Linked DNA regions of Homo sapiens. The protein of the gene in region 1 interacts with the protein of each later gene in a pairwise test. Each region holds a gene or a part of one and is shown on either strand. Other genes may lie near its edges.

Region 1 (4,400 bases):
TTTCAAACGGTTCTTATCTCCTGGTAAAGTCAATTTTTGCCTGAGTGGTTTTAATTCAAATGCCTGAAAAGTTTTGACTTGTGTTTTCTCCTCAGGAGCTACTTCTTTACTTGAATCCTTTGTAATACTGACATTATCAGTGCTAGTTTGGTCCTCGAAGTTCAATGTTTTAGGATCTTCCTGCACATTCTCTTCTTTGCTACTCAATGCTAGTTTTTCATCCTTATTGATGCATTCTAGTTCCAACTGTATTTGTTTATACTTTAAAAGCAAATCTTCAAAAGTTTCTTCCACACAGTTTTCATTTTTTGATGAATAATTTTGTTTTCTTGATGGAGACCTTCCAAAACTTTTGGCTGAACAGCATATTAAGGAAACCAGTTTCCAAAAATTTTCCACAGTTAAATTTAACAAAAAAACTTAGATTATAGATGAATTTTCTCCCTTTTTAATTTTTCAAGAAAAATGAATCGATATTTTTAAATTACTAAATTCCATTTAATGTATGTGCAGCTAATGCCCACTTTCATTACGTGCCCATATTTGAATTTAGTAAGTACCATATAAACAGTCCACTTACAAAATCACTAGTGTCATAATTACCAGTAGTATCCACAGACAGTCCACCTAGTTAGGTTATAGCATCATTCCTTCTGTGCCAGGAAAGTCCATAATTAGCTGTATGTTAGAGATTATTTTCTGAAGGAAGAGGGGAGAAACTGAATGCTTTGTCACAGATGCGGATAGTTTACACTTCAGGGGGCCAGGCGCGGTGGCTCACGCCTGTAATCCCAGCACTTTGGGAGGCCGAGGCAGGAGGATCACTTGAGGTCAGGAGTTTGAGACCAGCCTGGCCAACACAGTGAAACCCCATCTCTACTAAAAATTAAAAAATTAGCCAGGCGTGGTGGTGCAGGCCTGTAGTCCCAGGTACTTGAGACGCTGAGGCAAGAGAATTGCTTGAACTCAGGAGGCGGAGGTTGCAGGGAGCCAAGATCACACCACTGCACTCCAGCCTGGGCAACAGAGGGAGACCTCATCTCAAAAAAAAGAAAAAAAAAAACACTTTAAAATAGTACTCAAAATATATCTATTTTTCTCCTACAGACAAGGGAAAATGTTATGAAAATAATCTGAAGCAACTGTTCTTACTTTCTTCTCTAACACAGTGATACACAAAAGGTAACTTTTTCCTTAGAAACAGCTACAAAATTTCAAACTACAATTTTTATTCTAAACAATTCATACACGAGAATTGTTATACCTCATTTTTCCAGGCCAGATATTAGCAAGAGAAAAGACAGTACCTCCTGTGGTTTTAATACATCATTTATAGATTTTTTTTTTTTTTTTTTTTTTTTGAGACAGAGTCTCGCACTGTCAGCCAGTCTGGAGTGCAGTGGTGCGATCTCGGCTCACTGCAACCTCCGTCTCCCAGGCTCAAGCAATTCTCCTGTCTCAGCCTCCTGAGTAGCTTGGATTACAGGTGCGTGCCACCATGCCCAGCTAATTTTTGTATTTTTAGTAGAGATGGAGTTTCACCATGTTGACAAGGCTGGTCTTGAAATCCTGACCTCAGGTAATCCGCCCACCTTGACCTCCCAAAGTGCCGGGATTACAGGTGTGAGCCACTGCACCCAGCCTATAGATTATTTTCAGTTGGCTAGGATGTAAAATACAGTACCCCAAATACGGTTCTTCTGTTTAAACACCTCACAGGGCAAGCAGCAGAAAAGGTTTTTAAACTCTCCTGATGACCAGTTCTAAAAATGAGAATTACCATCATCTAAGAAACAAAAATAAGCAATAAGTACATCTGAAAATCTTAACAGTTCTACAGCAAAACTGTTCTAGTAAATCTCTGGTTCTCTGATCTCTTCAAAGCCAAGTATCCTGAAAGAAAACTAGTTTCTCTGTACCCTTCTTACCAAATGGAATCTGGTTTCTGTCCCATTAATCTAGAGAGACTGCTGTGGCTAAGTTTCCCTATCAATGTTTTCAAACTTTATTTTTTTTTACCTGACCCCTCTGAGAATCTGACACCATAAACCACTTCTCTCTTGGCTTCCATAACTCCGCATCTCCCTTTGTTTCCCTATTTGTGTTTTGTCTTTTAAGTCTCCATTGAGTCTTTTCTCTCTAACTTGTGAAATAATGGTGCTCTTCAGGGAGCACTACTTAGCCTCTTTCTCATTTTGAGCATTCTAATGCACCTCCACAGTTTTACCTACCACAGGAGAGTTTACCCTGGTGATAAGATATTTCTCTTATCTCCTACAAGCCATCCTTCATACTGCTGCTGCCAGAGTAATCTTTCTAGAATACAAATATAAGATCATTCCCCTTGTTTAAATTTCCCTAATAAAAAAGTCCAAAATCCTGAGAATAAATATAATCTGACCTGTGCTTTCCTTTCCAAACTTACTTTTTCCTTGTTCATCACAATTTTTGCATAGCTTTGTGTCTAAGTTTGTCTGTTCTTCAACTTAACCCCAATTCAAGTGTCACCTCTGTGAAGCCTGAGTTTCTCACTCTCCCTTCCCCTCTTACACACTCTTTGTATGTAAGTTCTGTAATTATCTGCATTTACATCTTACTTTTCACTGGAGCCATTTAAAGGCACAACTGCAATTAAAAAAAAAAGAAAAGAAAGGGAAATGATTAAATACACTAACAAAAATGCTAAATAGAAAAATAAGGAAAAGCAATTGAGTTACAACTATAACTGACTAATCTCCTTCAAGGCTAAAGAAAATCTATCCCTATCTATACAGAAGCCTAAGATCAAACCAACACTTACCAGATTTAATTTTAAGCTTGTCAAGATACAATTTCTAACTGAACCTTGGTTTAAACAAAAAGAAGTGCTATTCAACCTTTTCAGCTGCAGCTGAAAATGGAATGACTTTTTACTGATGAGAGACACTAGCCTAATTATGTTAGCTCTCCTCAGATTTGAAAGTTTAAAAGAGTAGTCATTCAAGGGAGACATGCTAAGATGTACTGACAAAGTGTCTATCATTAAGAAAAATTAAGGGTGAAAATAAGAACTGCAATTGAATCTAGTTTATTCTATTTCTTTAAAGTTGCAACTAGCATATCTTAGTTATTACAGTGAAAGGAGTTATGGCAAAAATAGAAATAAACCCTATACTCAGGCTACTTTACTTCTAAATTACAGAAATATGCCACAGAGTAACCTGCATTCTTTCTTTATACAGTATTTGTAAAATAAAAAAGGTATTATTATAATCACATAGTGGAAATATGAATTAAACTGAGTACAACCTTGATATTAAATAAATTTGAATGAAGTGTTGTAACAAATATTTTGTTTGCTCACATTATATAAAAGTAGCTGGGAACTACGTTTTCCTTCTCAAATTCTTAAAAAGAACACCACCTCTAGGATGGATTACTGATACTTCATAGGGAAAACAATGAGCAGGACATCAAAACAAGCATCCTTTTAAGTGCAGCATCTGTGAAAAGAAAAACAACAAGATATCTTATTTATGACAAGTTACTACGGAAATCAAAGTCACACAAGCAGACTGGATATTTTCTGGTACTTTTTTTTTTTTGCAACATCATATGCCAGTTTACTAATAAAAACATGCAAGCTTACCAATTAATAAAGGTCTATGGTAGAGGCCCAAAATAGTATTGAATAAACACGCAGAAAGAGGACAAAAGCAGAAAGCCCACTCACCTCCCCCTTTTCTAATACAGAATAAAAATTTTAAGAAAAACCTTTGAGCTCCCATAGTACTTTTTTATATACATACTTCAGTTTCAACTTTTTATACTAAACTGCAACTACTTATTTTCATTTGTTTCCCTAATACAAACTACAGGTTTCATCTTTGTACCTTTAAAAAACACATATAAACTGGTGGCTCTCGCCTATAAATCCCAGCACTTTGGGAGTCTAAGGAAGGAGGATCTCTTGAAGCTACAAGTTCAAGATCAGCCTGGGCAACATAGCAAGACTTCGTCTCCCCAAAAAAAAATTTTTTTAAATAAATTTAATAAAAATTTTTTTTAATTAAAAAAATTTAAAAACCATCCACATTGGCTGGGCACGGTGGCTCATGCCTGTAATCCCAGCACTTTGGGAGGCCGAGGTGGGCGGATCACGGAGTCAGGAGATCGAGACCATCCTGGCTAACATGATGAAACCCTGTCTCTACTAAAAATATAAAAAATTAGCCGGGCGTGGTGGCGGGCGCCTGTAGTCCCAGCTACTCGGGAGACTGAGGCCGAATGGCGTGAACCCGGGAGGCGGAGCTTGCAGTGAGCCGAGATCACACCACTGCACTCCAGCCTGGGCGACAGAGCGAGACTCTGTCTCAAAAATAAATAAATAAATAAATAAAAACCATACACATATATATGCT
Region 2 (2,784 bases), on another chromosome or scaffold:
TTCGAAGTCCTAACTGTCTTAGATTGTCTGTCTTGGATTGGTCCAGTACCCAGTACCTTGCAATTTTGTATAAACTAACTAACGTTCATTAAACTCTATGCTCTCAAATTCTCTTTAACCATTTTGTTTCCTCCTGGAACAGAGTGGGGTACTCAAACATTGCCTGCTCTCTCTCTGCCCTATAAATGCTCCATGATGTGTTGGCTGGAGAACTTTTGTCTCTTTTTTCAGCAATGGTACAACAGCTCCATGAACGTGATCTGCACCTGGTTGACGGACCGGATGGACTTACAGCTTCATATTTATCAGTTGAAAACACTAATTAGGATGGTAAAGGTAAAAGAAAAGATTATTATTCTTCTTTGCAAATAGCTTACTGAAATATATTTCACTGGCAAGCTGCAAAGCTTGCTTAACACAAAGAATATTAGTTTACATATAAAATAGTATCTCATACAAGAAAAACCTATGCAATTGTTTTGTGATGCATGATAAATGTGTTACTCAGACAGCAAAGGGAAATTTAATACAAATGAATTTGATATCTTTTTCCAGAGAGGAAAAATACTTGGTTTTGCCATACAAAAATACGGCAGAGGCCATCGTGTCCTTTGCATTAGACTTTCAAAAACTGGCTTTTGGTGTCATTATGTTAATCACATCCATTACCAATTTCATTTATAGTTTAATTAAATAAAATGTTGCCGCTATTAATTTAATAGAAATATTTACCCCCAGCTATTTCTAAATATGTCCTGTGATCATTATCAGAATGCAAATCAATATTGTTCTCATAGTTAATTGAAGTAGTTCGTCTTACAATGCGTGTATACAATCAAATGTAAAGGATCACAAAGGTGAGATAACATACCCTGAAAGTAGCTTTTTCCCTTGTTCTTGTGTGTGCACCTTGGACTAATGATAATTATTTCAGCGTGAAATCTCAGTGGTTTACATGAAATAATAAGATCACAGAAGGGGGTAAATACATTTTTGATCATTTCAGTTTCTATTTGATGCTTCACCATAGAGGGTTTTAAAACATTTGTATGCAAAAATCTCATTCAAAGCACAAAGTCCTTTAAAATATTTTAACAATAAATGTAGCTGAATGTCTATTTCTTAACAGTTTGCCAAAAGTCCCTGCAACACCCACTCCTGGGCACCCCCCCCCCCCGCCCCCACCCCGTTTCTTAGTCTCTTTTGGATCAGCACCATTTCACTTTACCCCAGTGCTGACTTACAACCAACTGCTGTTCCGTTGTGTGTAATTAAGGAGAATTATTATTATCTGCATTTGATCTCACAAAGCATCCACCCGGGAAAGGTTATAGACAGCAGTGTATTACAGCTCTTAAAAAACGAATGTATACACTTAGACTATGGACCCAGCCTCATTTTCACATTTTTTTACTTCAGTTCCTTAGGACCAGCTCAATCGTCAAGTGGTCGCCTGACCACTTGAATTCCATTTTCTGTGCATAAATGCACTTTGGGGAAATTGTCTGTTTGACCCTTATTGGGTAGACATGAAAAGAAGATATAATTGTCATACTTAAAAATTATCTTCCCATTATTTCTATTTCCAGATTGGTGTTGGAAATTAACAATATTTTATGAAGGAAAAATATAAGTCAGAGGGGAGGTTTAATCTTAGCCTTTTGCCAAAACAAAAAAAAAAAAATGTGGTATGAGCCACAGAGAAGGGATATAGAAAAGTCACTGCCAAAGGAACCCCTTCACTTTAGCAAAAAGTGGGTTCAGCTTAACTAATGCCACAACTCAGAGCTATGAAGCAGAATTCACAAACTTTAAACCAAGAACATCACCCAGAGGCCTCCTCCTCCAGGGCAAATTTCCAAGGATAATTGGCTTTCTTTCTTGCATCAACAGCCACTTCATTTATTCACCCATTCATTTATTATTCAGCAAGCATTTATTTATTCATTCAACATTGGATAAATATTAGGTGGGCCTCTACTTGTATATTACCAGATGGAGGATTCAGAAATGACTAGATGTGGTCTCTGCACTTAGGCATTGAGAGTCTAGTTGGTATACACGTTGCTATGGAATTTGAATAAAAGGGAGAATGCTCAAATGCTTTTTACCTTTATTTTCCCCCATCATATTCTGGCAACAATTATGTTATTCTAAGTGGCAACAGAACAAATGATTGAAAAGTACAAAAATTTAAGTTAATTGTGTAGATATCTGGCCCACACCATGCCTAACATTTATTCAGTCTCTTACCCGTCCCCATCAAAGTGAAAACACAGTTCAGGTAGCTGTCTAGCTTCCTCCTCTCAGCAAGACTTGCAGGTTGATGCATGATTGAGGATAACCTTATAATTTAATGTCAAACCAGATTACTTTTTTGTTATTGGACTTCAGTAAGCTGAACTGGGTTCACTCATTAACTCTGTAGTCATTACAACATGTGACCTTCAAGAGGGGTTGACATTGTGATTGTTGCTATCATGACCGCATTAGATGGACTATTAAAAATAGAAATAATGGGCCGGGCACGATGGCTCACGCCCGTAATCTCAGCACTTTGGGAGGCCAAGGCGGGTGGATCACAAGGTCAGGAGATCAAGACCATCCTGGCCAACATGGTGAAACCCTGTCTCTACTAAAAATACAAAAATTAGTTGGGCATGGTGGCGGGCACCTATAATCCCAGCTACTCAGGAGGCTGAGGCAGGAGAATCGTTTGAACCCAGGGGGTGGAGGTTGCAGTGAGCCGAGATCGATCTGCTGCACTCCAGCCTGGGTGACAGA
Region 3 (2,167 bases), on another chromosome or scaffold:
CTCAGGGCCAGGGCAGGTATGCAGGAGCCACAGGATTGAACCAGAAGTCAGGTGTTGCTGGCGAGACGGGCAACTGAGGACTGTGGGTGTGTGCCAGGGAGAAAGGGTGAGAGGGACCGGGGGCACCAGTAGGGGAGGAAGCTGGGCAAGGACGGGTGGCCCCAGGGAGGGACTGGGAACCTTCCACAAATGCCTTGTCTAGCTTGGGCTGAGCTCAGGATCCCTCATGTAGACCAAACCATACTGGATCACGATGGAGCAAAAATACTTCTCCAGGTTTTCATATTTCTCTTAATCCTAACACTGAATGTGGTCCGTGGCCGGGCCTCTTCTGTGTGTGCACCCCACACCCGTGGGGTCCACCCACACCCTGTGCCATCAGCCCTCAGGGCACAGCACTGCTGCACGTCAGTTCCCACCTGCTGAGTTGGACTTCGAACATCTACAGACCAGGTGAGTTATGGCACCTCATTTTTGGTCTTTGCTCCTTACAGTAGCCCAAGTGACTTTTTCCCTAGTATGGTTTCTTTTAAAAGATAGATCCTGTCATGCTTTTACTTAAAATCTCCCTATGCCTTCTAACTGCCATTATGATAAAACCCAAACCCCTGACCTTGGCTTCTAGGATACACACGACAGGCACTGCCTACCTGAGCCCTACCAGTTCACACCAGCCATGGCGGCCTCCTCCATGGCTGTCCGCTGCCTGGAATGCACCCTCCTCGGAGTCCCCCAGACACGAGGAGATGTGTGCATCTCCCACCCACTGAGCCTTCCAAATGCCACCTGGCCTCTGCTGGGGACACAGCTGGACGTTCCTGTGCTGGTCACTGGGCATCTGACCAAATGCTGGCTCTTCAAAGTGGCCTTGACCACCCCACCGGCTCCTTCCACCTCTATTCTCTCATTTTCAGAGCACTCATCATGGCCCGAGGTCATGTATGCTCTATGGAAGCATCTGCCTCTGTCTCCAGAGGGTCAGGTCTGGGATGCAGGCTCAGCCCTGCTCATCTCAGGTCTACCTGGGAAAGCTTAGACCAGAGGTGCTTGGGGATGCCTGAATGACTACATGAACAAATGAACGGATGAGTCCTTTCTGAGTGTATGTGAACACCCAAAGGACAGATCTTAAAACCATTCCCGGAGGAAAATAAATGAATGTGCACCTGCAGTGTAGGGTATACATTTAGTTCCCTGGAATTCTGTGACAAGACAGCCTTTTCCTGTATTAGCTACCTGCACACCCATAAAAGTGGAGAGCGTTCAGAAGAGGACGTGAACACGAAAGCAGCAGCGCCCATCACTCACCTGCTCCTTCAGCTTATCCACTTTCTCTTGGAGGAGCATTTCCATATTCTTCAGAATCATCTCCGCCTCTTCCACCCGCTCTTCTGTGGCTTTCAGCTGTTTCTCATGTTCTTCCTGCCATAAAAGAAGGTTGCAGGTGGCCGGGCATGGTGGCTCACGCCTCTAATCCCAGCACTTTGGGAGGCCGAGGCGGGCGGATCACCTGAGGTCAGGAGTTTGAGACCAACCTGGCCAACATGGTGAAACCCCATCTCTACTAAAAAAAATAGAAAAATTAGCCGTGTGTGGTGGTGCGTACCTGTAATCCCAGCTACTTGGGAGGCTGAGGCAGGAGAATCACTTGAACCCAGGAGGTGGAGGTTGCAGTGGCACTCCAGCCTAGGTGACAGAGCAAGACTCAGTCTCAAAAAAAAAAGAAAAATTAGCTGGGCGTGGTAGCGTGCACCTGTAGTCCCAGCTACTTGGGAGGCTGAGGCAGGAGAATCACTTGAACCCAAGAGGCAGAGGTTGCTGTGAGCCGAAATAGCACCACTGCATTCCAGCCTGGTGACAGAGTGAGACTCCATCTCAAAAAAAAAAAAAAAAAAAAAAAAAGCCAGGTGCAGTGGTTCACAACTGTAATCCTAGCACTTTGGGAGTCTGAGGCGGGCGGATTACCTGAGCTCAGGAGTTCGAGACCAGCCTGGGCAGCACAGTGAAACCCTATCTCTACTAAAATACAAAAAATCAGCCGGGCATGGTAGCGGGCGCCTGTAGTCCCAGCTACTCGGGAGGCCGAGGCAGAATAATTGCTTGAACCCAGGAGGCGGAGGTTGCAGTGAGCCAAGATTGTGCCATTGCACTCCAGTCTGGGTGACAG
Region 4 (3,500 bases), on another chromosome or scaffold:
CATTAAATGACCTGGTCATGGTCACACAGTAAATGAGAGTGTCAAAATATCACCTAACGTTCTAATCCTAACCTGCTAGAAAGTAAACTCTAGAAGGGCAGGCATTGCCTCTCTTGGGTTCACTGCCAGCACCTAGCACAGCACCATGCACACCACTGGGGTTAATGCTAGTATCAGTACACATGCTCAGAATAAATATTATGAGAGTTAACTGCACTTCACAAAGAAGCCACGTAAGTAATAAATGGACAGTAGCTCCATCTCATATCACGAACAAGGCTAACTTGTAATGAAGAACTGCAGCAGCCCCCATTTGTAAACTAGAAGTGTTTTCCTTTTAGAATAACGAAATATTTGAAGAAAAACAGCCACCCATTTCCAACTGTTACATGGTAGAATGAATCAATCTACCATTATTTTTTTGTTAGTAGACTATAACTACAAGATAGTATTCTAGGATATCTGGTCAATAATACAACCAAGTTAATGATTAGTCCACCCTTCTATATAAATGTTGATTTATGATTACTATATTCATCGTCTAGGCTGAGATAATTTTGAAAATAAAGGGGTGCTATTAATATTTATTCACAGGAATAATGGCAACAGTCTTAGGCAAACCAGAACCTACGAGTCAACTTAGTTCAAAGTAAAAATATTCTCCTTTTCTTCTTTCTTATGGCACCTGCAAGAGATCCCCTGCATAGCTTGGCCTACATTTCTTGTTTCTTGCTTAAATTTCCTGACAAAGTGATGTTAAAAATAGAGACAAATTACTAAATAAATACATGCATATGCGTCATCTAAGGATACACAGCAATTTTCAGATATAGCCCATATTAGGATTTCAAAAGCAGTTGATTATAAAATTGACTTGCAACAATAAAAGCTCAACTATAGGATACGTCAATAACACAGACTTGTCTTGTCAATGTTTAAGATGACTACTTCCAATTTAACCTCCTTCCCATTATTGAACTGTAGCAGTCACCATCCCATAGTCCCATTTTTCAATCACTGACTTTTATATGCCTTATCACAAATCCTGAGGGACTCTACAGAAAAAGCCGAAGCTTCTTCCCACCAGCAATCAAAACCATACAAACCTCTGTCAGCTGCTTCAGTTGGTTTTTGTTTGTACTTAATTCTTCTGCTAGGATATTCTTTTTCACTTGTAGTTCACAGATTTCCTTTCTTAATGGATTCACTAGCTCATAGAAGCGAACCTTGAAAAAAATTAAATTAATAAGCAGTCTTAAATCCAAATTACAATTAAAATTTGTAATTTGTAGTGCTCTCACTTATCAGTAATAAAGATAAATATTTACAAAACTACAACAAGACAGTCATTAATGGACCCTAGCCACTAATACTTTCTATCAAGCCTTAATGTTCAATTAACTTCCCTCAAGGGCCAGATGATTTATAACCTCTTACCTTTGACAGTATTTCCTCCCTTCTACTGACACTCCATTACTACTCATCTACTACTGCTCACTCCACACTAGGTGCTTGTAAACTTCTGGAACATATCACAAATGTTCAGGAGTCTTGCTCTTGCTGTTTCTTCTGCTAGAGAAGTTCTTCCCCCATATAAATGCATGGCTCATGCCTTGTCTCCCTATAGGTCTCTGACCAAATATTACCTTGTTAGTAAAGCCCTCCCTGATTTCTTTACCTAATTTTAAGTAGCACTCCCTATTTTTCACCCCTGCTCTTTTCTCTGTAGCACCTTTGACAAACAGATATTCTACATATTTAATTTTTAAGTTATTGCCTGTGTTGCTCCACTTTCACAACCTGAGGGCAGGGATTTTTGTCTGGTTTATACACCGCTGTATTTCCAATGCCTAAATATATGATAAGCACTCAATAAATACTTGATGAAGAGGTAAAGTGTATTCTTTATTTTCATCCCAGGCTCTTGGCAAAGCTTTATTTACTGCTGTCCCTACAGTGGAAGTCTAATCAGAATGAATCAAGAGGTATCTTTCACATCATTACTTCCATTTAGTTCAGGTCTCTCTTTCCACTCATACTTGTCTCAGAGAAATTTTCCTACCCTAGCTCAGTAAAGTGTTCCATCTGACAAGGTCCCATAAAACTAAGAAATCATCACAGCAAATTAGGAGAGAGTAATTAGGGGCTATCATATAGGCATGCAATCTGAAACTCCTTAACATATGACGGTATTACAAGAATACCATTATTTGGTAAGAGGCAAATCTTAATACTAGCCCTCAACAAAAAGAATCTGCATATAATTAATTAGTTAAGGATAATATTGTCTGTGAAAACAAAAGATGTAAGAAGGAATATTAAGAAAACAAACAGCAAAAATATGTGTAACTGCCACCAGTGTGATACTTTATATCTACTGTAAATGAAGCCTCAAAAACAGAATTTGAGATATTTAATTTGTTTTGGACAGTATACTTTGGACAGAAAAGCTGTATTTGAGCCTTTTAAAAAAAAAAAAAAAACAGCTGAACAAAAAAGTAACTTCATTTTATCAGACATCACTAATCTGCAAATCTTTTCCCAATGAGAACCAAGAATAGCAACCACCACTCCAGCAAAAACAATAGACAACATTTTTATGTGTTTACTATCTTCTAAGCACTATGCTCACAAGCATTTTACATACATAGTTATAGTCTTTACAATTATCCCCAATAGAAACGCACCGTTACTATTAACCCTTTTTAGGGATTAAAAAATTCAAGCCTCTCAGGGTAAAATGACATCTACATATTAAAAAGCAGCAGTTCTCAACATATGGTTTTGGGACTCCTGGACTCTGCCCCACTCGCCACTCTGAGATCCTTTCAGGGAATTCACAAGATCAAAACGACTTTCCTAGTAATTATTAAGATTTTTTTTCCCCGTTTCATTCTCATTCTCTCATGACTGTTCAGTGGAGTTTGCCAGTGGCTACATGACATATGACATTATCACTCTTAAGGCCAATGGAATTGTGTGCTTATTCTTGTGTTTAAAAAAGTTGTTAGTTTAAAATTCTAGTATGGTAAATATTAATAGATACAGCCCATATAAACAAACACTCATTGGGGTCCTCAATAACTTTTAGAATGTAAATGAATGCTGACACCAAAATATTTGAGACCACTGCCATAGATTAATCCTAGGTGTTCTAGATTTGTGTAACCAGCACTGCAATCAAGATCTTGCGCCAATCTCTCACCACAAAGTTCTTTCTCATCCTATCCCTTTATAACCACGCTGACTCCTCTCTCCCACTATCCCCAACCAACCCCTGGCAACAACTACTCTGTTGTTTATAATTTTTCATTTTGAGAATGTAAGAAACCACCAGTTTACGATAATTCATTTCTATGGACTATGCAGTCATTAACTTCAGAAACCTATTTATTGCTTGACTTTGGAGATCAATGGTCATGATCCTTTAAAATTTGGATCTCAACACCATTCACCATCCATAGCCATAAAATAATGTATCAATTGGGTACTTCAAAAGT

What was found. The genes of interacting proteins can lie anywhere in the genome.
Region 2: the proteins of ZFC3H1 (region 1) and CADPS interact in a two-hybrid assay, tested with the Homo sapiens proteins (one large-scale study listed by BioGRID).
Region 3: the proteins of ZFC3H1 (region 1) and NINL interact in a two-hybrid assay, tested with the Homo sapiens proteins (one large-scale study listed by BioGRID and IntAct).
Region 4: the proteins of ZFC3H1 (region 1) and PIBF1 interact in a two-hybrid assay, tested with the Homo sapiens proteins (one large-scale study listed by BioGRID).

Annotation. Positions count from the first base shown.
Region 1 is NC_000012.12:71,656,946-71,661,345, forward strand, and holds part of ZFC3H1 (zinc finger C3H1 domain-containing protein), read right to left. Parts: exon of another isoform or gene 3,426-4,400; intron 357-3,425; coding exon 1-356. UniProt on the Homo sapiens protein: Subunit of the trimeric poly(A) tail exosome targeting (PAXT) complex, a complex that directs a subset of long and polyadenylated poly(A) RNAs for exosomal degradation. The RNA exosome is fundamental for the degradation of RNA in eukaryotic nuclei.
Region 2 is NC_000003.12:62,400,633-62,403,416, reverse strand, and holds part of CADPS (calcium-dependent secretion activator 1), read left to right. Parts: intron 1-231; coding exon 232-336; intron 337-2,784.
Region 3 is NC_000020.11:25,454,365-25,456,531, forward strand, and holds part of NINL (ninein-like protein), read right to left. Parts: intron 1,423-2,167; coding exon 1,309-1,422; intron 1-1,308. UniProt on the Homo sapiens protein: Involved in the microtubule organization in interphase cells. Overexpression induces the fragmentation of the Golgi, and causes lysosomes to disperse toward the cell periphery; it also interferes with mitotic spindle assembly.
Region 4 is NC_000013.11:72,795,633-72,799,132, reverse strand, and holds part of PIBF1 (progesterone-induced-blocking factor 1), read right to left. Parts: intron 1,227-3,500; coding exon 1,107-1,226; intron 1-1,106.